Homo sapiens: one gene and its partners. The protein of the gene in region 1 purifies or fractionates together with the protein of each later gene. This does not show direct contact. Each region holds a gene or a part of one and is shown in the gene's direction. Other genes may lie near its edges. The genes, in order: SNU13, ZNHIT3 and ZC3H18.

Region 1 (6,422 bases):
CTACCCCTCTCCCTTTTTTTTTTGGATGCAATTATTCAAAAACATGGAACGTTTCACGAATTTGCATGTCATCCTTGTGCAGGGGTCATGCTAATCTTCTCTGTATTGTTCCAATTTTAGTATATGTACTGCTGAAGCGAGCACTACCTCCCTTTGTAAAAAAGGAAAAAAAAAAAGCTGTTTTTCAGTAGAATAATTATGTATGCATGATGCTTCTGCCCAGAGGTGATATAGGATACTCTCACTTTATTCATTATTATTTTTTTAATTTTATTTTATTTATTTATTTATTTTTTTATTTGGAGAGTTTTGCTCTTGTTGCCCAAGCTGGAGTGCCATGGCAGGATCTCAGCTTACTGCAACCTCCGCTTCCCGGGTTCAAATGATTCTCCTGCCTCAACCTCCCAAGTAGCTGGGATTACAGGCATGCACCACCACGTCCAGCTAATTTTGTATTTTTAGTAAAGATGGGGTTTCACTATGTTGGTCAGTCTGGTCTCGAACTCCTGATCTCAGGTGATCTACCTGCCTTGGCCTCCCAAAGTGCTGCTGGGATTACAGGCGTGAGACACTGTGCCCAGCCTTATTTTTATTTTTATTTTTTTTCAAGTAGAGACGAGGTTTCACCATGTTGGCCAGGCTGGTCTCGAACTCCTGACCTGAAGTGATCCGCCTGCCTTGGCCTCCCAAAATTCTGGGATTACAGGCGTGAGCCACTGTGCCCGGCTGCCCAGCCTTATTTTTATTTTATTTTATTTTTTTGGAGACAGAATCTCGCTCTGTCGCCCAGGCTGGTCTTAAACTCCTGAGCTCAGGCAATCTGCCTGCCTTGGCCTCCCAAAGTGTTAGGATAACAGCAGGCGTGAGCTACCATGCCCAGCCAGAATACTCTCATTTTAATAGATGCTGGGTAGTTTGATGTGGTAGAGCTCTTTTGTCGTTGAAGATTTTTAATGGAAACATCAGAGATTTTGTCAACTGTGTTTGAGATTTAGGAGAACTATTACAATCGCTTTTACCTGTGTTGCTGAAGGAAGATAAAGTAGACTCTGTGGGTCTCGTCGTAGTGCTCTTTCCTCCCTGCTCGTCACACTGCAGTAACTGCAGTGCCTGGTATAGCAGTGGCCAGTGGGGCATTGTAGGGTGACCCACCAGCTCTCCTGGGAGGTCTCTCTTCTCACTTGATGCACTCAGGTCAGCTTGGCTGGGCAGGGATGTGACTTCTTACACTTCAGGTAGATGAGGACTCATGGACACAGAGCAACCTTATTTCCTCTTGCCATACTTTGCACGGTGATAAGCACACAGGTCCTTGAATGGAGATGCTCAGTCTCAGCGACTTAATTCAGAATATGCTTACTGGGAGTTCAGGGAGGGAGATGCAACAATTTTCCGTACTTCTGCCTCAGTGTCAGGTATTCTTTCTTGCCATATTTATTGATTGCCTGCTATGTGCCAGGCGCATGTATATATGCTGATGATGCACTGGTGAACAAAATGAAGTCTCTGCCTTCTTGGAGTATACATTCCAGTGGAGAAAGACATAGGTTTTATGCCTGGTGGTAAAGAATGCTGTAAGAGGCCGGGCGCGGTGGCTCACACCTGTAATCCCAGCACTTTGGGAGGCCGAGGTGGGCAGATCATGAGGTCAGGAGATCGAGACCATCCTGGCTAACACGGTGAAACCTCATCTCTACCAAAAATACAAAAAATTAGCCGGGCGTGGTGGCGGGCGCCTATAGTCCCAGCTGCTCAGGAGGCTGAGGCAGGAAAATGGTGTGAACCCGGGAGGCGGAGCTTGCAGTGAGCCGAGATCTCACCACTGCACTCTAGCCTGGGCGACAGAGTGAGACTCCGTCTCAAAAAAAAAAAAAAGAATGCTGTAAAACAGAATAAAGTAGAGAAGGGGGATAGGAATGGCAGTGGTGGGTCTTTTTAGATGGAGTATTCAGAGAAGGTCTGTCTGAGGAGTTTGAGCAGAGAACTGAATAGATGAGGGTGTTGGAAAGAAACGTTTTTGGGCATGGTGTAAAGGCATGCTTGAGGGATTCTAAGGAGGCTGGTGTGTGGCTGGAACTAAGTGTGGGGATGAGAGGTACTAGGAGATCACATGAGACCATGTAGGCCACTGTTAGCAGTGAGTACAATGGTAAATGAGTAGAAGGATTTTGAACAGCAAGATTGCTATGATCTTACTTAACACTTATAAAAGAGTCACTCCTATGACTTTTGTAGGGTGAGTAAGCTATAGTAATATCAATAGAAATGAACATGCTTTGCATTTGCCATGTGTCAGGTATTATTATTATTATTTATTTTACTTTTTTTTGAGATAGGGTCTTACTCTGCAGCCCAGGCTGGAGTGCATTGGCATTGATCATGGCTCACTGCAGCCACGACCTCCTGGGCTTAGGTGATCCTCCCACCTCAGCGTCCCAGGTAGCTGGAACTACAGGTGTACGCCACCACACCTGGCTAATTTTTTATATTTTTAGTAGAGATGGGGTTTTGCCATGTTGCCCAGGCTGGTCTCAAACTCTGAGTTCAAACAATCTACCTGCCTCAGCCTCCCAGTGGGCTGGGATTACAGGTGTGAGCCACCATGCCCAGCCTCATCATTCTTATTAACTGGTTTAATCCTTTCAATAATCCTATTAAGTAGAATTATTAGGTAATTAGAATTAGGTTAAAAAGAGCTGAGGTGTGGGTGTTCGTTTCTCAGGTGAAACATGGCTAAAAGCTTACGGAGTAAGTGGAAAAGAAAGATGCGTGCTGAAAAGAGAAAAAAGAATGCCCCAAAGGAGGCCAGCAGGCTTAAAAGTATTCTCAAACTAGACGGTGATGTTTTAATGAAAGATGTTCAAGAGATAGCAACTGTGGTGGTACCCAAACATTGCCAAGAGAAAATGCAATGTGAGGTAAAAGATGAAAAAGATGACATGAAAAGGGAGACTGATACTAAGAGAAACAAAAAGACTCTTCTAGACCAGCATGGACAGTACCCAATATGGATGAACCAAAGGCAAAGAAAAAGGCTGACGGCAAAGCGAGAGAAAAGAAAGGGGAAAAGCAAAGCAAAAGCAGTGAAAGTGGCAAAGGGTTTGGCGTGGTAGACTCTTAAAACCTTGGAAAATGCCACATGGGATAGATGATGGATTAGAATGTATATACATGTATACTTTGATTTCAGCTGCCACCAAATGAAAACCATTTGTTTTCCTATTTTAACTTGGCCTTTTTTCTTCAATTCAAACCCAGCATAACTCCTGAAGTTTGTTTTGGGAACTTGAATAAAATATTTTCTTTGATACAAAAAAAAAAAAGAATTAGGTTAAAAAGAATTAGGTAATTCTTTTTTTATTAGGTAGAATCCTGTTAGGTAGAATTATTTTATAGATGATAAAAGTAAGGGAAGTTAAACACCTTGCTCAAGGTCATTTGTGTAACAAGAATGAGTGCCAGCATTTGCACTCAGACAGTGTAGCTCTAGAGTGTGTGCCCTTCTCAAGTACTCCAGCATGAATGCAGAGTATTCGCACTGAGCCACAGAGGCAAGCAGTCAGGAGAGTACGCATCTGAAACGGTGCTGTGGGGTGTTGAACTTGCATGGTGAGTCGCATGTGGGATCAGCTTTCTAGAAGTATTGATTATGGCAGATTGAGATGGTAAAACTCTGACTCTCAGTCACAGATACCTTGAGAAATACTATATTATTAATATACTACTACTTGCTGGTGGGGGTTTGTGGAAGCTGTTGCAGTTGACAAGGTAAGAGATGATGGTGACTTGGACGAGTATAGCAGAGGAGTAGAAAGAAGTGGTCAGGGCCAGGCGTGGTGGCTCATGCCTGTAATCACAGCACTTTGGGAGGCCAAGGTGGGTGGATCACAAGGTTAGGAGTTTGAGACCAGCCTGGCCAACATAGTGAAACAAAAAATTAGCTGGGCATGGTGGCAGGCACCTGTAATCCCAGCTACTTGGGAGGCTGAGGCAGGAGAATCACTTGAACCTGGGAGGCAGAGGTTGCAATGAGCCAAGATTGCGCCATTGCACTCCAGCCCGGGCGACAGTGTGAGACTCCATCTCAAAAAAAGAAAAAAAAAAAAAAAAGAAAGAAAAAAGTTGTCAGATTAGGACAGGCACAGTGGCTCATACCTGTAATTTCAGCACTTTGGGAGGCCGAGGTGGGTGGATCACTTGAGGTCAGGAGTTTGAGACCAGCCTGGACAACATGGTGAAGCCCTCTCTCTACTAAAAATACAAAAATTAGCTAAACACAGTGGCACGTGCCTGTAATCCCAGCTGCTTGGGAGACTGAGGCAGGAGAATCACTTAAACCCGGGAAGCGGAGGTTGAAGTGAGCCAAGATCGCACCACTGCACTCCAGCTGTGTGACAGAGCAAGACTCCATCTCAAAAAAAAAAAAGAAGAAGAAGAAGTGGTCAGATTCAGGACGTGTTTTGAGGATAAGTGGTGGATTTAATGTAGGGCTTGAGAAAATGCCATTGTGTATGACTGACTGGTGTTTGAATCCTTTATCATATCCCAGGGCCGGTCTAGGACACATAATTGTGTGTGCCTAGGCATTCTTCCCAGTTTGTTGTGGCTGCCCTGCCCAAGCCCACATCACCTATTAGCTTCACGTCCTTCTCTCCGCAGCCACCAAAACCCTCAACAGGGGCATCTCTGAGTTCATCGTGATGGCTGCAGACGCCGAGCCACTGGAGATCATTCTGCACCTGCCGCTGCTGTGTGAAGACAAGAATGTGCCCTACGTGTTTGTGCGCTCCAAGCAGGCCCTGGGGAGAGCCTGTGGGGTCTCCAGGCCTGTCATCGCCTGTTCTGTCACCATCAAAGAAGGCTCGCAGCTGAAACAGCAGATCCAATCCATTCAGCAGTCCATTGAAAGGCTCTTAGTCTAAACCTGTGGCCTCTGCCACGTGCTCCCTGCCAGCTTCCCCCCTGAGGTTGTGTATCATATTATCTGTGTTAGCATGTAGTATTTTCAGCTACTCTCTATTGTTATAAAATGTAGTACTAAATCTGGTTTCTGGATTTTTGTGTTGTTTTTGTTCTGTTTTACAGGGTTGCTATCCCCCTTCCTTTCCTCCCTCCCTCTGCCATCCTTCATCCTTTTATCCTCCCTTTTTGGAACAAGTGTTCAGAGCAGACAGAAGCAGGGTGGTGGCACCGTTGAAAGGCAGAAAGAGCCAGGAGAAAGCTGATGGAGCCAGGACAGAGATCTGGTTCCAGCTTTCAGCCACTAGCTTCCTGTTGTGTGCGGGGTGTGGTGGAATTAAACAGCATTCATTGTGTGTCCCTGTGCCTGGCACACAGAATCATTCATACGTGTTCAAGTGATCAAGGGGTTTCATTTGCTCTTGGGGGATTAGGTATCATTTGGGGAGGAAGCATGTGTTCTGTGAGGTTGTTCGGCTATGTCCAAGTGTCGTTTACTAATGTACCCCTGCTGTTTGCTTTTGGTAATGTGATGTTGATGTTCTCCCCCTACCCACAACCATGCCCTTGAGGGTAGCAGGGCAGCAGCATACCAAAGAGATGTGCTGCAGGACTCCGGAGGCAGCCTGGGTGGGTGAGCCATGGGGCAGTTGACCTGGGTCTTGAAAGAGTCGGGAGTGACAAGCTCAGAGAGCATGAACTGATGCTGGCATGAAGGATTCCAGGAAGATCATGGAGACCTGGCTGGTAGCTGTAACAGAGATGGTGGAGTCCAAGGAAACAGCCTGTCTCTGGTGAATGGGACTTTCTTTGGTGGACACTTGGCACCAGCTCTGAGAGCCCTTCCCCTGTGTCCTGCCACCATGTGGGTCAGATGTACTCTCTGTCACATGAGGAGAGTGCTAGTTCATGTGTTCTCCATTCTTGTGAGCATCCTAATAAATCTGTTCCATTTTGATGACAGAATGGCAGTGCCTGATTCTTAGTAAGTATCCGGCTAAAATTGGAATGAAGACATACTTAGCTTTACTAGAGTGGTGATAGCTGCTTAAGACTTTTTTTTTCTTCTTTGTGAAAGAGTTTCACTCTTGTTGCCTAGGCTGGAGTGCAATGGCACGATCTCGGCTCACTGCAGCCTCTGCCTCCTGGGTTCAAGTGATGCTCCTGCCTCAGCCCCCAAAGTAGCTGGGATTACAGGCGTGCGTCACCACGCCCAGCTAATTTTGTATTTTTAGTAGAGACAGGGTTTCACCATGTTGGCCAGGCTGGTCTTGAACTCCTGACCTCAGGTAATCTGCCTGTCTCAGCCTCGCAAAGCGCTGGGATTACAGGTGTGAGCCACCACGCCTGGCCACTTGCTTAGACTTTTTTTTACCAGAAGGCTATGGAAGAGCTGTCTCCTCCTACCAGGTAGTTTCTACCTTGGCAGTTCAAAATGTCGTCTTATACACACTCAACTGGAG
Region 2 (8,921 bases), on another chromosome or scaffold:
AGACTAAGTACCCGATGCCATTTTACCTCCACAGTGGAGATAATAATATTAGACCATGTCACATATAGTGTAAGAGTCTTACCTAGTAACTTCTATTTCCCTCCATCATTTTTATGTTTTATGAAAATGTTATTACTTTCATATATTTAATTCTGCATGTGCTAAGAACTCCACACTGTACTGTTATATTTGCTTGAACCAGTTATCATTTAAAGAGATTAAAAAGGTAAAAATGGGCCGGGCGTGGTGGCTCACACCTGTAATCCCCAGCACTTTGGAAGGCCAAGGCGGGTGGATCACCTGAGGTCAGGAGTTCGAGACCAGCCTGGCCAACATGGTGAAACCCCGTCTCTACTAAAAATACAAAAATTAGCCGGGCGTGGTGGCGGGCACCTGTAGTCGTAGCTACTTGGGAGGCTGAGGCAGGAGAATCGCTTGAACCTGGGAGGCGGAGGTTGCAGTGAGCTGGGATCGCGCCATTGCACTCCAGCCTGGGTGACGGAATGACACATTGTCTCAAAAAAACAAAAAAAAAAAACAAAAAAAACCCCCAAAAAGTAAAAATGTTTTTTTGATTTTACCTATAGGTTTACAATTTTTGGTACTCCTTTGTGCAGATCCAAATTTCCATCTCATGTCATTTTCCTTTTGCCCGAATAACTAACATTTCTTGTAGCGTAGATCTGCTAGTGAAGAATCCTGTTGGGTTTTGTCTAAAAAAATCTGTTTCTTGTCCTCATTTTTAAATGATAAGGAAATAAACCTGGGGTCTCAGTTCCTCTTCCCCGCCCCTCACTGAGCAGAGTTCTTATGCACTGCTGCCATGTGGGAGGTGGAGATGGGTTCAGAGGTTTGTGAAAAGCTTGACGCGCTGCACGCCCACTCCACAGGGCACCTTTAGAGGCTTCTTGGGGAAGCTGGTCGGGTAGCTCTGACTCCTCGCATCTCTGTGTGTCCTTGGGAATGTCAGGTGGAAGATCGATGTGCATTTGCAAATGGGAGTGAGTGTGAGAAAAGAAAAATGTGGGGTTGTGGCTGGTAGGGTGTGTTCAGGGAGCAATGGTGACCTCTGTTGTCTGTGCTCTCCCAACAGTTCTGGGATTGTGGGGAATGCAATTGTTCTGTATCCCTTTTGTATTTTGGAAGTTCTCCGTGAAGTCTAACTGCAGGTCATATTGTCATTTAGTCTAGAGTTGGAGGATGGATATAATTTCATGAGTATGAAATAATATGCAGAGTTGTTGGACACCAACTGGGCCCACCCACTCCACCAGAACTCAGGTCTCCTTCATTTGACTCCCACCGGCAACGTCACTCACTTTAACACCTGAATTACTCTCTCTTAGATACCAGAGGGGAAACGGAGGCATGCAGGTGAGAACGTGGCAGCAGTCCCTAAAAGTCACTTCTGGTGCTGGCCCTGGCTCATCCGTGCCCTGGGGGAGAAATGCAAGTGTCAGAGCTGCGGAAAGGAGCTGAGATCTAGCAGGGCTCGCCCTTATCAACCTCCGCCTCTAACAAGGGCCACACAGCACGTAGGGGAGATTAGGCCGATCTGCCTGCCTCATCGCGGGAGGCCAGGAGGGTGGAAGGCAGCGGATCGCGCCCTAGCGAGCAACCCACATGCTCTGGAAGTGTGGTTCAACTTTCACCAGGCTACTGCGGGCGGCCGGCCAGCTGTCAGCGGGCACTCCGCCCCCAGGAGCTGTCCGCAAGCGCGGGGCGGTGGGCACCGCGGGGAACAGCCCCCGGACAGCCAGTGGCACGCGGAGACCTCGGAGAGCGCAGGCCCTGCTTTCCCGTAGGAACACTCGTGGGCATCGGGTCGCCCGCTTCGCCCCCGCGCTCTAGACGCACTTTCCTGCCGCCTGGCGATGTCCGAAGTGCATATCAGAGCATGGACTTGGTCTTCCCAGCGCTACCAGACCGCTGAGCCTCCCCGCACGTGGTGGGGCGCAGGCGGGGCGCCAGCTGCGCGGGAATCCGGGCGAGCGCGCTCCACCCGGGCAGTGCGGGCCTGGAGCGCCCTCTGGCGGGACGGTGCGCGGCGTTGCGCGTCTCCAGCCTTGGGATTGGCCCGGACTCGCCTTCAACGCACCGGACAGCGCTGCCAGGAGGCAGAGCTCTGAAAACCTCGACAACGACGCCTCTCTCTTCAGTGCCCGCACTGCGTCCCAGGCTGACGCCAAGGAGGCCCAAGACAGCCCTGGGTGGCCATTAGGACGGGTCTGGAGGGGACATCAGTGTGGACATCTAGTTGCTGGGCCTGGGGTCACAGCCCCCTTTCTTGTCTGAACTGGCCACTGCCCGGAGGAGCTGCGCTGTGCGCCTTAGTGTGCCACCACCTAACCGCCATCGCGGCTGAGCCCACCTCCTTTCCCGGACATTAGAGGACGAGGGGTGCGAAGGTCGGGGAAAGCTGGGGGCATCCAGATATCCAGAGTAGAGGAGGGGCCTCTTCCCTGCGTGGATGTGCATGGGAAGGATTCCAGGAATTTAATTTTCTTTTCTTTTGAGATGGAGTCTCGCTCTGTCACCAAGCTGGAGTGCAGTGGCGCGATCTGGGCTCACTGCAACCTCCGCTTCCCGGGTTCAAGGGATTCCCCTGCCTCAGCCTCCCTAGTAGCTGGGACTGCAGGCGCGTGCCACCACACCTGGCTAATTTTTTGTATTTTAGTAGAGACGGGGGTTTCACCATGTTGGCCAGGATGGTCTCGATCTCCTGACCTCGTGATCTGCCCGCCTTGGCCTCCCAAAGTGCTGGGATTACAGGCGTGAGCCACCGCGCCTGGCCGAATTTTCTTTTTTCTTTTTTTTTTCTGGAGTCATCATCTCTCCACTCGCAGATAGGGAGTCAGCGTGGTTTGTATGCAGGTGGGAGGGACTGAGCCCCTGAAAATGGTTAGGATTGTCTCTGGCCTCAGCCTTGGTACACACATCACAGGACAAATCAAGCAGACAGTGGTGAGTCCGCCACAGTGGGCAAATTTCTACCCGTGCCAGACAGTGTACAGGATCTTTTGTTTTTTTTTCTCTCTCTCTCTTCCTTTTGAGACAAGGTCCTGCTCTGTCACCCAGGCCGGAGTGCAGTGGCGTGATCTCCACTCACTGCAACCTCCACCTCCTGGGCTCAAGCGATTTTCCCACCTCAGCCTCCCCAGTAGCTGGGATTACAGGCTCAAGCCACTGCCCCCCGCTAATTTTTGTATCTTTTTGGGTAGAGATGGGTTTTTGCCATGTTGCCCAGGCTGGTCTTGAACTCCTGGGCTCAAGCCATGTGCCCGCCTTGGCCTCCCAAAGTGCTAGGATTACTGGCGTGAGCCACCTTACCTGGTGGGGCACAGGATTTTAAATTAAATTTTTTTTTTTTTAATTTTTAGAGACAGAGTCTTGCTCTGTCGCCCAGGCTGGAGTGCAGTGGCATGATCTTGGCTCACTACAATCTCTGCCTCTAGAGTTCCGGCGATTCTTGTGCCTCAGCCTCTCTAGTAGTTGGGATTACAGGCGTGCACCACCACACCCAGTTAATTTTTTCTATTTTTAGTACAGACAGGGTTTTGCTATGTTAGCCAGGCTGGTCTTGAACTCCTGGCCTCAAGTGATCTGCCTGCTTTGGCCTCCCAAAGTGCTGGGATCACAGGCGTGAGCCACTGCGCCTGGCCTAAATTTTTCGTCTTTAAGACGGGGTCTCTCTCTCTCTGTCATCCAGGCTGGAATGCAGTGGCACAATCATAGCTCACTGCAGCCTTGAACTCCTGGGCTCAAGTGAGCCTCCAGCCTCAACTTTCTAAGTAGCTGGGACTACAGGCTGATGCGACCATGCCCGACTTGGCACAGGATTTAAATATGGCCCTGGACAAGTCACTGGCCTTCTCTGGCCTTCCCAGGTAAGCTTGGACTTTCTGGGATGCTTCAAGTTCAAATCATCAGTGGTACAACTGTTGAACAATATGAGGAACGCTGCGGGTTACTGGGCCTGTGTGGACCCGTTTTGGATTCTAAGCTGGGTCCTGGGCAGAAGTTGGAGGCTGGGGCAGCTGCAAGCAGGACAGGCAGGTGGCCAGAGGGCCCAGCAGCTTCAGCACTGAGGACTGGACTGGGTCGCCACGCCCAAAGGAAGGATAATTACTCACCTCCCACTCAAGAAGCAGGCGGCAGAACTGTTTTGGAGAGCATGGCTTGGGGCCTGGGACCTATGTTCATGCGGTCCAGACGGAGATCCATGAGAGTTAAGACTCTTTCTAGATATCAGGTAGCACTTCTGATTACAAAACTTTTGCACATGGTCTCCTCTCTGCTTTACAACAGCTCAGGAAAGTAGGCCCAAACATCCACTTTAATAGATGAGGGAGCTCAGAGGGGGTAACCAACCCCTCCAGGTCACACAGCCAGGGAGGGGGTTGAGCCAAGGTTCAAACCACTGCCTCGGTTGTTGCAGATACATCCCTGCAGACACCTTTATTGAAGAGGGACCCTGAAGGCTGAACGGCCAACACAGAAGAGGAGGCACTTGGGAGTAAGGGTGATTTATGGCCCTGGGAGGGCCCAGTGCAGGTAGGATGGGAGCTAAGGTAAGGCTGGGCCATGCCTAGCTGCAAGCAAATTTCCTTAAAAAACAAACAACAAAAAACATTACTTTTTCTAAACCTAAAGTTTGTGGTGGCATTCAAGTCCCATCATAGCCCATCTATCCAGACTCATCTGCCTGGGATCCCCGTCTTGGGACTAGTGGTCACTGGCCTGCTTCCTGGTCAATTAGCTTCCGGGACTAGGGGGAGGTGTGAGGAGCCTAGAGTGCAAAATTTAAGAAGCACTCAGTCTCAGGGGCGTGCAGGTGCAGGGTAGCGACGGCAGGACTCTAAGAGTGAGTCTCTTTCCTCCCCGTTTCCCCGTCCTACTTTCACTCTAAGCATTTAGTTCCCAGGGGACAGAGACGACTTCTTCATTAGAAGACCCCGGGGGGTCCCCAGCCCGGAAGGGCTCACAGTTGGAGCTCAAACATTTGCCACTGTTCAGGCTCATCTTTCTTTCCCCAGTGAAAAATGGTCTAGGTTGGGAAGGGCAGGTTCCTGTCTACTGCGTGATCCAACCGATTCTGGTTCGCCCAATGTCTGGACTTGTCCTTTGCCAAGAATAAGCAGATGAGATGGGCGGATGAACCCCAATGTCCCTGCAAGATTCAGGAAGTCCCAGCCAGAAAGTAAAGGACGTTTAGTTCCATGTATTGTTTTCTTTTTTACATGCGGGGCAACACACCTGGACAGTGTCGATGGCTTGCTCCAAGCCACACGGCCGCATAGGGACAGGGACTGGGCTACATAACAAGTTCTTCGACGCTGTGATCTAATCAAGGAAAACCTGGGACGCAGCTAATAGATGCGCATCGAGTGTATCGACGCTCTAAGTACGAGGGCTGGAACAGTGAGCAGGATCAGTCCATTGCTTTTGCCTACCTGCTGAGCGCTGATTGGTCCCCGTTTAGGAAACGGAAAAAGGGGCGTGCACGCGGGCGCGGCTGCGTGAGAGGCGCGCGGCGGCGCAGTGAACAGTCTCCTTCCACAAAACCATGGCGTCGCTCAAATGTAGCACCGTCGTCTGCGTGATCTGCTTGGAGAAGCCCAAATACCGCTGTCCAGCCTGCCGCGTGCCCTAGTGAGCGGGGAGGTCGCGGGGTCCAGGGGCGCGGGTGTCCGGCCATGGCGGGAGGGCGGGAGGCCGGGAGGCCGGGCGGGAGCGGGCGGGCTGCTGGAGGGGCCGGGGACCCTCGGGGCTGACGCGGCCTGTGGCCTCTGTTGTTACAGCTGCTCGGTAGTCTGCTTCCGGAAGCACAAAGGTGAGCCCCGTCCCCGCCAGCCCTCGTACCACTGCGCACGGGGCAGCCCCCACGTCCAGCCTCCGTCTTGGGGGCGTGGACCCTTGGGCTGCGCTTCCTTTCCCGCCTCGGGTCTCCGCGGGTTCTGCAGGAACCTTGCTTCCTCTGACTTGGTCCCTGGTGTCTCTGTGTGTCGGACAGTTCCCTCTGTTGTCCCTGCCTGTAATCGCTCTCAGGGTTTTGGTCAGTAGCCTTTCTTCTACCCCGCTTCTCCTTCTGCGTGTTACTCTTTTTTGCTTAGAAATAGTTTCCGATTGCTTTTCCCACCGAGGTCTACCCTAGCAGTTTCTTCCTCAGTATTCTGATGTAGCCCCTCACCATTTGGCTGAAACTGCGCTAACTTTAACAGTATTTTCACTCGTGTAAATAATGTCTTGTTAGAAACAAAGAGGTAAGTCCATGTACAATACAAGGAGACGTCCTTGATTTGTTAAGAGAAAAAAAGAACCAAGTAAGTTCTGTGTATGATGTGAACACACTTTTGTACAGTTAAAAAGAAGTGACCTGGCCGGGCGCGGTGGCTCACGCCTGTGGTCCCGGCACTTTGAGAGGCCAAGGCGGGTGGATCACCTGAGCCCAGGAGTTCGAGACCAGCCTGGCCAACATGGTGAAACTCCGTCTCTACTAAAAATACAAAAATTAGGCGGGCGAGGTGCGCGCCTGTAATCCCAGCTACTCAGGAGGCTGAGGCAGGAGAATCGCTTGAACCCGGGAGGCGGAGGTTGTAGTGAGCCGAAATCGCACCACTGCACTCCAGCCTGGGCTACAGAGCCAGACTCAGTCTGGAAAAAAAAAGAAAAAAAAAAGTTTGATGTAGGTGGGGCGCGGTGGGTCACGCCTGTAATCCCAGCACTTTGGGAGGCCGAGGCGGGCGGATCATTTGAGCTCAGGAGTTTGAGACCAGCCTGGGCAACATAGCGAAACCCCGTCTCTATAAACAAACAAAGCCAGGCGTGGTGGCCTGTGCCAGTGGTCCCAGCTACTCAGGAAGCAGAGGTGGGAAGATCGCTTGAGCCTGGGAGGAGGAGGTTGCAGTGAGCCAGGATCGTACCACTGCACTCCAGCCTGGGAGACAGCAAGACTGTCTCAAAAAAAAAAAAAAAAAAAGCTTGATGTAGATTCTTTCAGCTTATTTCCACTCTTGTACCAATATATAGAACTTTTTTTTTTAGCTTTTAGAATCTCAGCAATGAGACTGTACCCAACATCCTCATTTGAGTTTATATATTGGGCACTTTTTAAAACCTAGTGCATACAGGCTGGGCGCAGTGGCTCATGCCTGTAATCCCAGCACTTTGGGATGCCAAGGTGGGTGGATCACCTGAGGTCAGGAGTTCGAGACCAGCCTGGCCAACATTATGAAACCACATCTCTACTAAAAATACAAAAATAAGCTGGGTGTGGAGGTGCGCGCCTGTAATCCCAGCTACTTAGGAGGCTGAGGCAGGATAATTGCTTGAACCATGGAGACGCAGGTTGCAGTGAGCCAAGACTGCACCACTGCACTCCAGCCTGGGCAACAGAGTGAGACTCCATCTAAAAAAAAATTAAAAAAATTAAAAATAAAGACTAGTGCATACAAGTTCTAGCTCACTGACTTAAAGGACTGTATGTTATTTCATTATATAGTTGGTACGACCATTATTTATATAAAGCCTCCTATTGGTTGATTTTTCTTTTTAATATTTGTTTTTAATTGACACATAATTGCATACAATTTGAGTTACAGTGTGATACTTCGATACCTGTATACAATGTTTAAGGATCAAATTAGGGTAATTAGCATATTCGCCCCAAATAATCATTTCTTCATGTTGGGAACACTCGCAATCCTCTCTTGTAGCTATTTGAAAGTATAAATTGCTGCCAACATGGTCACACTAAGGTACTGTGTAACACTAGAACTTATTCCTCCCATCTAGCTGTAATTTTGTATCCATTAAGCAACTTCTCCCTAGCCCCCTACACTCTACTCTTCCTAGCCTCCAGTTACCACTATTCTGCTCTCTACTTCTGTGAAATCAACTTGCTTAGCATCCACATGTTAACAAGAACATCTTATGGTGCCTGGCTTGTTTCACTTAACATTATGTTCTTTGGGCTCATCCATGTTCCTGCAAGTGACAGGATTTCATGGTTTTTTATGGCTAATATCCAGTGTATATATGTACCGCATTTCTTTATCCATCTGTTGGTGGATCCTTAGGTTCATTCCTTATCTTGGCTGTTGTGACTAGCAGTAAACGCAGGAGTGCAGGTATCTCTTCGGCAGACTGATTTCATTTCCTTTGGATATATATACAGTAGTGGGATTGCTGGATCATATGGTAGTTCTATTCGTAGTTTTTTTTTAGGAACCTCTATGCTGTTTTCCATAATGACTATACTAATTTACATTCCCAATAACAGTGCAGTGTATAAGAGTTCCCTTTTCTCCACATCCTTGCCAACATGTTTTTTTCTTTTTGATAATAGCCATTCTTACTGTGGTGAGATGATACCTCATTGTGGTCTTGACTTGCATGTCCCTAATAATTAGTGATGTTGAACATTTTTTCATGTACTTGTTGGCCATTTATATGTCTTCTTTTGAGAAGTGTCTGTTTGGCTCATTTGCCCATTTTTTTTTTTTTTCTTTTTGAGACAGAGTCTTGCTCTTGTCGCCCGGGCTGGAGTACAGTGGCGCAGTCTCTGCTTACTGCAACCTCCGCTTCCAGGGTTCAGGTGATTCTCCTGCCTCAGCCTCCAAAGTAGCTGGGATTACAGGTGCCTGCTGGCTGATTTTTGTATTTTTAGTAGAGACAAGGTTTCACCATGTTGGCCAGGCTGGTCTTGAGCTCTTGACCTCAGGTGATCCACCTGCCTCGGCCTCCCAAAGGGCTGGGATTACAGGGGTGAGCCACCATGCCCGGCCCATTTGTCCACTTAATTTTTTTTTTTTTTTTTTTTTGGCTGTTGAGCTCCTTGTGTATTCTAGATATTAATCCTTTGTCAAGTGAATATTTTGCAAATATTTTCTCCCATCCTGTGGGTTGTCTCTTCATTCTAT
Region 3 (7,987 bases), on another chromosome or scaffold:
ATTGGACTTTTGTGTGCTCACCAGCTTCTCAGTGTGTCAGGACTTTCTCAGGTGACCATTGCAGGATGTCACAGAATCATGCCTGGGTAAAAGACCCATTCAAAGTTCAAGATAGACCAATGGATTTCAGAAGAACCAAGTTGGAAAAGTGTGGTGATAGGGTTCAATTGCAGCTCGCTGTAAGGAGCCTTCCCTTGCTGAGTGCGGTGTCAGGGAGAAGCTCTGAGCACACTGAAAAGGCTTTTAGATGCCCCTCCCTCTCTAGCTGCATCTCTTCCTGGGGCTGTAATGTCCTCTCCTGCTTGAGCCACAGCGGCCCTTCATGGTCGATCGCATGCAGATGGGAGGCCAGGGGTTTTCCAGGGTCAGCATTCAAGAGATTCGCAAAAAGGCAAAGAATGCTATTCCTCTCACCAAATATTTTAAAAACAGTTTCATAAATATTTGTTACTATATATTGGATATCTTGTTATTGTTAAATAATGAGATATCTTTAAGTGTCTCTTAATTTCTAATATCGTACGTATCAATAGAAATGACACATATAAACCAAGTAAACACAGGGAATTGATATTTACTGTATTCAAAATCAGAAGAGACATTTAAAGATACTTCATGTGTGGGCTGTGCTGGAGCATGAGCTGAGCCTCAGTTCCTGCCACCTCTGTGTTTAGTTTCCGGATTTTCCATGTTTCCTATCTGTTTCCTGTCTGTTTCCCTGATCCAGTTTGGGTTGGTTGCTACTGAGCATGCAGGTTCCCTTTCTGTAGTTACATTGTTTAGTGAAAAAAAGCAAGGTTCAGCACAGAGCATAATATATATGCTCAGGTAAAAGGGGGCAATGATTGATGGATGGAGCCCCAGTATATTGATAACTGCCTCTGGGAATGGCCCTGGAGGCATGGGATAGGTGGTCAACTTCACAGTGTACCTTTTAGAGTGGGTGGGTATTTTTTATTTACAAGTATTTCATTTGATTATGAAATATTTCATATATATAAAATAATACAGTGTTTACACAAGCGTAAAGATTAATAAGAGAATAAAACAGTTGGCTGGGCGTGGTGGTTCATGCCTGTAATCCCAGCACTTTGGGAGGCCGAGGCGGGCGGATCACCTGAGGTCGCAAGCTCAAGACTAGCCTGACCAACATGGAGAAACCTCGTTTCTACTAAAAATACAAAATTAGCCAGGCGTGGTGGTGCATGCCTGTAATTCCAGCTACTCGGGAGGCTGAGGCAGGAGAATCACTTGAACCTGGGAGGCGGAGGTTGCAGTGAGCTGAGATTGTGCCATTGCACTCCAGCCTGGGCAACAAGAACAAAACTCCATCTCAAAAAAACAAAAACAAAACAAAAGAAAAACCAGTTGCTGCTGTGCCGACATTCCAGTTAAGAAAAAGACCATCATCCTGTCTTGAAGCCAGAAATAGTACTTAGACATTTCAGCAGTGGAGGGGCCGCCTCCGCCCCGCTCCAGCGGCCTCTGTCCCTCCTTGTCCTCTTCTGGCCTGAGGCCATGTCTGTGTACACAGTATCCGCAGAACTATCTTTATACTGTTAGAATCACAATCCACATAAATTTTGGGTTTGAAGTCCCATTTGTAAACCAGAAGATCTTTATTGTTGCTTCTATTTTCTGGATAATTTCTTTCTTTCTTTTTTTTTTTTTTTTTTTTAACAAATTGCTTTTTAAATTATGAAAGTAAGGCTGGGGACGGTAGCTGACACCTGTAATCCCAGCTCTTTGGGAGGCCGAGGTGGGCGGATCACCTGACTTCAGGAGTTTGAGACCAGCCTGGCTAACATGGCGAAACCCTGTCACTACTAAAAATACAAAAATTAGCCGGGCTTGGTGGTGCACACCTGTAATCCCAGCTACTCGGGAGGCTGAGGCAGGAGAGTTGCTTGAACTGTGAGGCAGAGGTTGCAATGAGCCTAGGTCGCTCCACTGCACTCCAGCCTGGGCAACAGAGCGAGACTCCATCTCAAAAAAAAAAAAATTAAAAAAAGGAAAGAAAGTAATATGGGCTGGCAGAAGGCAAGAAAATAAAATCTAAAGCCCCTTCCCACATTCCCGACAGTTGGGTGTGTTCCTACACAGATAAAAGTTCACATTTTAAAAAGATAGATGGGACAATGGTGTTCTTTCTGCCTGACGTCTGCTGGAAGTGTGTCCCAGCTAGACGTGCAGACCAACTGTGCTGCTTTCCAGAGCCATCTTCCCCTTTACTCTGGCCAGGGGCAGGACAGCGCTCAGCACCCCCGGGCAGGTGGCTCCCGAGAGCTGAACACTGTCACCCACTAGTGTCTGGTCTCTAGTGGCAGCCCCACGCTCGCCTTCTCAGCTTGCTCTTTGGCGCTCACTGGTTTGTTCTCTTCTGCCTTGTTCCTCTTTTCTCCCCATGCCAATATCAGTGAGAAAGGATCTTTTTTGATAGTAGGTTCGTAGGTGATGTCCTAAAAATTTTCATAAATACAGAAAAGAACGATAACATTTAGCCACCACCCAGATACATATTTTAGATGAAAAAGAAGTACAGAGGCCGAGTGTGGTGGTTCACGCCTGTAATCCCAGCACTTTGGGAGGCCGAGGCTGGCAGATCACAAGGTCAGGAGTTCGAGACCAGCCTGACCAAGTTGGTGAAGTCCCGTCTCTACTAAAAATACAAAAATTAGCCTGGCATGGTGGTACCCGCCTGTAATCCCAGCTACTCAGGAGGCTGAGGCAGGAGAATCACTGACACCCAGGAGGTGGAGGTTGCAGTGAGCCGAGATTGCATCATTGCACTCCAGCCTGGGACTGTCTCACTCAGTCAGAGTGAGACTCCATCTGAAAAAAAAAGGAAAAGGAGTACAGAAAAGCTGTGGTTTCTATTGTCAGCACTTTTCTGTACTTGGACATTTTTTACAATGAGCTTTTGTTACTTGTTTAGTTACACACGTGATTTTGAATACTGCATGAGTATTTTCAGAGGCAAACCATGAAGAGCTCTGTAGTGTGTTGAGTCTCAGATGGATGACTGCATAGTCAGTTTTTCTTTAAATCTCTCTGAGGCTCTGGATTTTTGAACCCCCTATAGAATAACATTTCCCAACCTCTTTTGTTTTTTGTTGTTGTTTTTGAGAGAGACTCGCTCTGTTGCCCAGGCTGGAGTGCAGTGGCACGATCTCGGCTCACTGCAAGCTCCACCTCCTGGGTTCACGCCATTCTCCTGCTTCAGCCTCCCAAGTAGCTGGGACTACAGGCACCTGCCACCACGTCCGGCTAATTTTTTGTATTTTTTAGTAGAGACGGGGTTTCACCATGTTAGCCAGGATGGTCTTGATCTCTTGACGTCGTGAGCCACCACGCCTGGCCTCCCAACTTCGTTTGACTTATGTGTGATCTCTGAAATGCTTTTAGAAATTTTAAAAATTACTTGTCATTTTTGCATTTCCAGAGAAGCAGTTTTAAGTTTTCTTTCGTGTTTAATTTGGATCGATATTGTTATTATGTTGTATTGAGTTGGTTTTAATGCAGGCTTAAGTGTTCCTGATGTTTAAGGTTAAAATTTTAAATGATTTAAAATCTAACTGCATGTTAACCCATTGAAAAAAATTTTTAAACCGCTTAGATACTATATGCCATATTTGGTTTTAAACAATGTGTACACATTATCTATTCCCAAAAAAGTACATTTTAAAAAAGTGATTCACTCAGTAATTGAGTTAGACACTTAGATGTCTTATATTCTACACTTGAAAGTCGAGGTCTCCTTTACTAACCCGGATATTCTGTTGAAGATGAAGGTTTGTGATTGTTATTTATGAGCAAAGTGTAAAAGCCCGTTTCAGTTCCAGAAATATCTTGAAATGCCCTGTGAGAGTTTTCTCTGTGAGAGAAATGCAGACGTACAGAGGTGGCCAAGGGGACCCTGAGCACACCTGCAGGCTTCTGATCATTGTTAATGCTTCTCATTGATGTCTGTTTCGGCACAAATACAATTAACATCCAGTTGTACCTAGATGAGCCTGGGCCAGGGCTGGAAGCAAAGCTCTGGGGCTTTTCTGGTTTAAGGGGAAAATTAATACTCAGACAGTTGATACGCGTGAACTCTCCACAAAGTGACTTTGTGGTCACTCTGACCGAGGTGCCTGGCAGCCTCTGGGGAACTGCCGTGCCTGGGCAGGTGCAGCTGTCTGGCTCAGCCTCTCCAGGCTCATCCCGCCCACCTCCCCGTTCAGTTCCCACTACTGTGTGGCTCGCCATCAGGCCTGGGTAAACATGGCCTCTGCCCCCTCCCACCCCCCACCCCAGCAGCTGCCCTTGTGCAATTAGGCTCTTGTGGACCCTTTCTGATCTCACTTTTGTTTCCATAGGGAACTGTACCTGGGGAATGAATTGTAGGTTTATACACCCTGGAGTGAACGACAAGGGGAACTACTCCCTAATCACCAAAGCCGACCCCTTCCCGCCTAATGGTGCCCCGCCTCTCGGACCTCACCCGCTGATGCCCGCCAACCCTTGGGTGCGTGATGCCTCTTCTTTCATTGTTAGCACATCAGCCAACTGAGCTGTGTCTGAATCTCAAGCTTAAGACAAGTCACTGTGCCTTAGCACAGGCTCAGTGCCCCCTTTCGGCTGCTTCTGTCGTCCCGAGTGGAAGCAGGCCTCGGCTTTCCGAGGACGGAGTGAGGCTTGGTGGAAGGAGAGCGGCCACACACGGCCGGCTTGTGTTGTAGTTGATGTTTTTACTGTCTGGTTTCTCTGTACACTTGAAAGTTTTACTTTCTCACCTTCTCCCTTCTCGTTTTTCAATAGGGTGGGCCGGTAGTTGATGAAATTTTGCCTCCACCCCCTCCAGAGCCCCCAACAGAGAGTGCCTGGGAACGAGGACTCCGGCATGCAAAGGAGGTAAACACAATTCAGCAGAAATCCCGACAAGAAAGATGCTATTACAGGAGTGGTTCTTGACAAAACTGGGATTTCCTCGGTCCAGAGAGAGCCCCAGAAATCTCTGAAGTTAGGCGTCTGTTTCTGTGGTGTCTTTCTTTATTTTTTATTTATTTATTTTTTTGGAGACAGAGTTTCACTCTTGTTGCCCAGGCTGGAGTGCAATGGCCCAAACTCGACTCACTGCAGCCTCCGCCTCCCAGGTTCATGTGATTCTCCTGCTCGGCCTCCCAAGTAGCTGGGATTACAGGCATGCGCCACCAGGCCCGGAAGGATGGAGAGTTATATCTAACTGTCTCAGGCAGCAGCCCAGTAGGCCAGGGAGTTCAGTCCAGGGCATACCCACTGTCTTCATGGGGCTGGATCAGCACTGGGCCACACCCCAGCTGGCACTGCCCAGGAGCACAGGGTGCAGTCTCCAGCCACTCACAGAAAGCCTGGCGAGGCTGCCCGAGCCGCACCCCCAGGATCTGCACCCCACACTCCTGAGACTCAGTGTCTGCTCTTCCTGGAGAAAACTTGGAGCTTTCTGGTCCTATCACTGCACACTTCCTCCCTCTAGGCCCACGTTGGCCCCAGTGTGTGAGCTTCAGCTCTGGGGACCACTCTGCTGGCACCCAGCCCCACTTCCTCATTTTCCTGGTCAGCCTCCCTGCTGGGAAATGACGGACAAGATGTTCCTTCTCACTCCCTCGGCATGTCACTTCCTTCCCTCTGAGACTCCAGCCACTCCACCTGCTGCTTGTCACTGAGTGACTGAACCCTGGATCTAGTTCCAAGGGTAGTTGAAGGAAGTGATGAACACCTCATGTGGGCACACGGAGGCCGGGGGCAGCTGTTTGTGCAGAGACGGGCACAGACTGCCCTCCCCAGAAGGACAACTGTGCTGTGTCCGCCCCTCACCCCTTGAGCACTTGCAGCGTGCAGCTCCTGCTCCTGCAGGGCTGCTGCGGTCGGGTGGGACGGCTCCCTTTGTGTTTCCTAACAGCGACGCCCGGTATTCTGTTCCATGTTGACTTCTTTCTTCTTACAATGGTAGGTTTTAAAAAAAGCAACTATTCGAAAAGAACAGGAGCCTGATTTTGAAGAGAAAAGGTTTACGGTGACCATTGGCGAAGACGAACGGGAATTTGACAAAGAAAATGAAGTTTTTCGAGATTGGAATTCTCGGATCCCGAGAGATGTCAGAGACACAGTGTAAGGAATGGCCCTGCCTGCCCCTCCGTTTCCTTCCTGCATGCGGCCACGCTCCGGAGAGAGCAGCCATGTGCAGGGCCCCAGGGTGCGCTCGGCTGAGACCCAGCCCCACTCACTGGAGTCTCAGTGACGTTCCTGAGAGCATTCAGGCACGGTTCTCAGAGCTCATCTCAGTTTTTTGCTTCTAGGAAGGAAGCGTTAGGGCTCTGTGCCATGGGCCTTGACTGGCAGCACTCACACCGTTGTGGTTCCTGAGCTCTGAGAGTTTTCGCTGCTGTCCTTGAGGCCTCTAGAGCCCCACAAGTCTGTGTTTCTGGCTCCTCACCCCTGCCCACATTACCCAGGAGCCAGGAAACGTGTGGAGGTTGCCACAAGCCAGGAACACAACAGCTGCGGCCTCTTCGCTGTCAGGGCTGTTCTGCCTTCACTGCTTCTCCTCCAGGGCATTGATGGCTGGTTTTTGTTTTTTGGTTTTTTTTCCCGAGGCAGAGTCTTGCTCTGTCGCCCAAGCTGGAGTGCAGTTGCGCAATCTTGGCTCACTGCAACCTCCGCCTCCCTGGGTTGAAGTGATTCTCCTGCTTCAGCCTCCTGAGTAGCTGGAACTACAGGTGTCTGCTACCACACCCAACTCAGTTTTGTGTTTTTAGTAGAGATGGATTTCACCATGTTGGCCAGGATGGTCTCGAACTCCTGACCTCAAGTGATCCACCCACGCCTGCCTCCCAGAGTGCTGGGACTACAGGCGTGAACCACTGCACCCAGCCCCTTTATGCCTGGTCTTTAAAAATCCTGTCTTAACAGAAGAAGTGCCTGGGTCGAAGGGTGGAAGTCAGATCTTGGGGGATTGCATGGCATATAAAGTGCTGTTTTCCTCTGCCTGTGGATGGCACGGTGAGGTTCAGGGCAGGGAACTGGATTATAATTCGGGCAGATCTGAATTGGCACTCCATCATGCTGAGGCTTTAGCAGCCCTGTACATTTCTGGTTGCTATTAGGGAATCATAATCACTATGATTTCTATCTGGAGTGACAATAAACGGTGCTCAAAAAAGGAAGGCGTGCAGGGCTTGCACTCCAGGATTTGGTCCTGTCGACTTGGCCCTGCAAGGCCCTTCTCAAGGCCTTCTTGCCGCGAGCAGGCTACCCTGGGCTTTCCGCCTGCGGAAGTTGGGGGAGGAAGCCCCAGTGGCCCACACCTGCCCCAGCAGGTGAGAGCTTAGAGGTTAAAGGGATAGGTATTTAAAGACTTGGTTAACATGTACATTTTCTAATTAAGTTTTGTGTGGAATGTCAGATCACAGAAAGGAGCATTTGAGTCAGAACTCTGCAGGATCACCAGGGGTGTCTCCTGAAGCCCTGGAGGCCTTTGTGTTTTTTTGTTAGATGTGGATATCGTCTTTCCTTCCCCAGAGCTCGTGTGCACAGAGGTCTCTATAAATATGTGTGGGGAAGGATGGATTTTAGAACCTGGGCGTGATCCTTGACACTCTATTTCCAGTTTCCCTGGCTGGAGCAGGGACCGGAAAACTGCCTGCTTGGAAGTGGTTCGGCAGGTCTCTGAGGTTTTTTGGAGTGCCCTCTGTGTGTGTTTTACCTATCAGTGTTGGTTACAGAAACAGGTGTCTCCCATCCTGGCACCAGGTGACAGAAGCTGGCTCCTGGCTCCCTAGCTTCTCTCCCAGGAGCCGGTATCTACACTGCAGGACCCCCAAATGTTAAAGTCTCGGCAGTCAGGGCTGAAAGGTTTTCACTGGTGTCTGAAAGCCAGGTATTTCTGTATGTTTGTATTTTGTTTGTTTTTATAGAGTAGCCTCTGTGTATGTTACAGTTAACCTGAGGCCTTTTGTGCCATGCC

The links.
Region 2: the proteins of SNU13 (region 1) and ZNHIT3 purify together in Homo sapiens (affinity purification with western blotting; 2 studies listed by BioGRID). This does not show direct contact.
Region 3: the proteins of SNU13 (region 1) and ZC3H18 purify together in Homo sapiens (affinity purification with mass spectrometry; 2 studies listed by BioGRID and IntAct, with this or other methods). This does not show direct contact.

Annotation. Positions count from the first base shown.
Region 1 is NC_000022.11:41,673,433-41,679,854, reverse strand, and holds the end of SNU13 (NHP2-like protein 1), read left to right. Parts: intron 1-2,694; exon of another isoform or gene 2,695-2,729; coding exon of another isoform or gene 2,730-3,113; exon of another isoform or gene 3,114-4,653; intron 4,654-4,659; coding exon 4,660-4,922; 3' UTR 4,923-5,922; downstream 5,923-6,422. Other genes in the region: protein LLP homolog, read left to right, coding at 2,730-3,113.
Region 2 is NC_000017.11:36,481,134-36,490,054, forward strand, and holds the start of ZNHIT3 (zinc finger HIT domain-containing protein 3), read left to right. Parts: upstream 1-5,547; 5' UTR 5,548-5,566; coding exon 5,567-5,652; intron 5,653-5,801; coding exon 5,802-5,833; intron 5,834-8,921.
Region 3 is NC_000016.10:88,593,817-88,601,803, forward strand, and holds part of ZC3H18 (zinc finger CCCH domain-containing protein 18), read left to right. Parts: intron 1-4,361; coding exon 4,362-4,510; intron 4,511-4,803; coding exon 4,804-4,896; intron 4,897-5,974; coding exon 5,975-6,132; intron 6,133-7,987.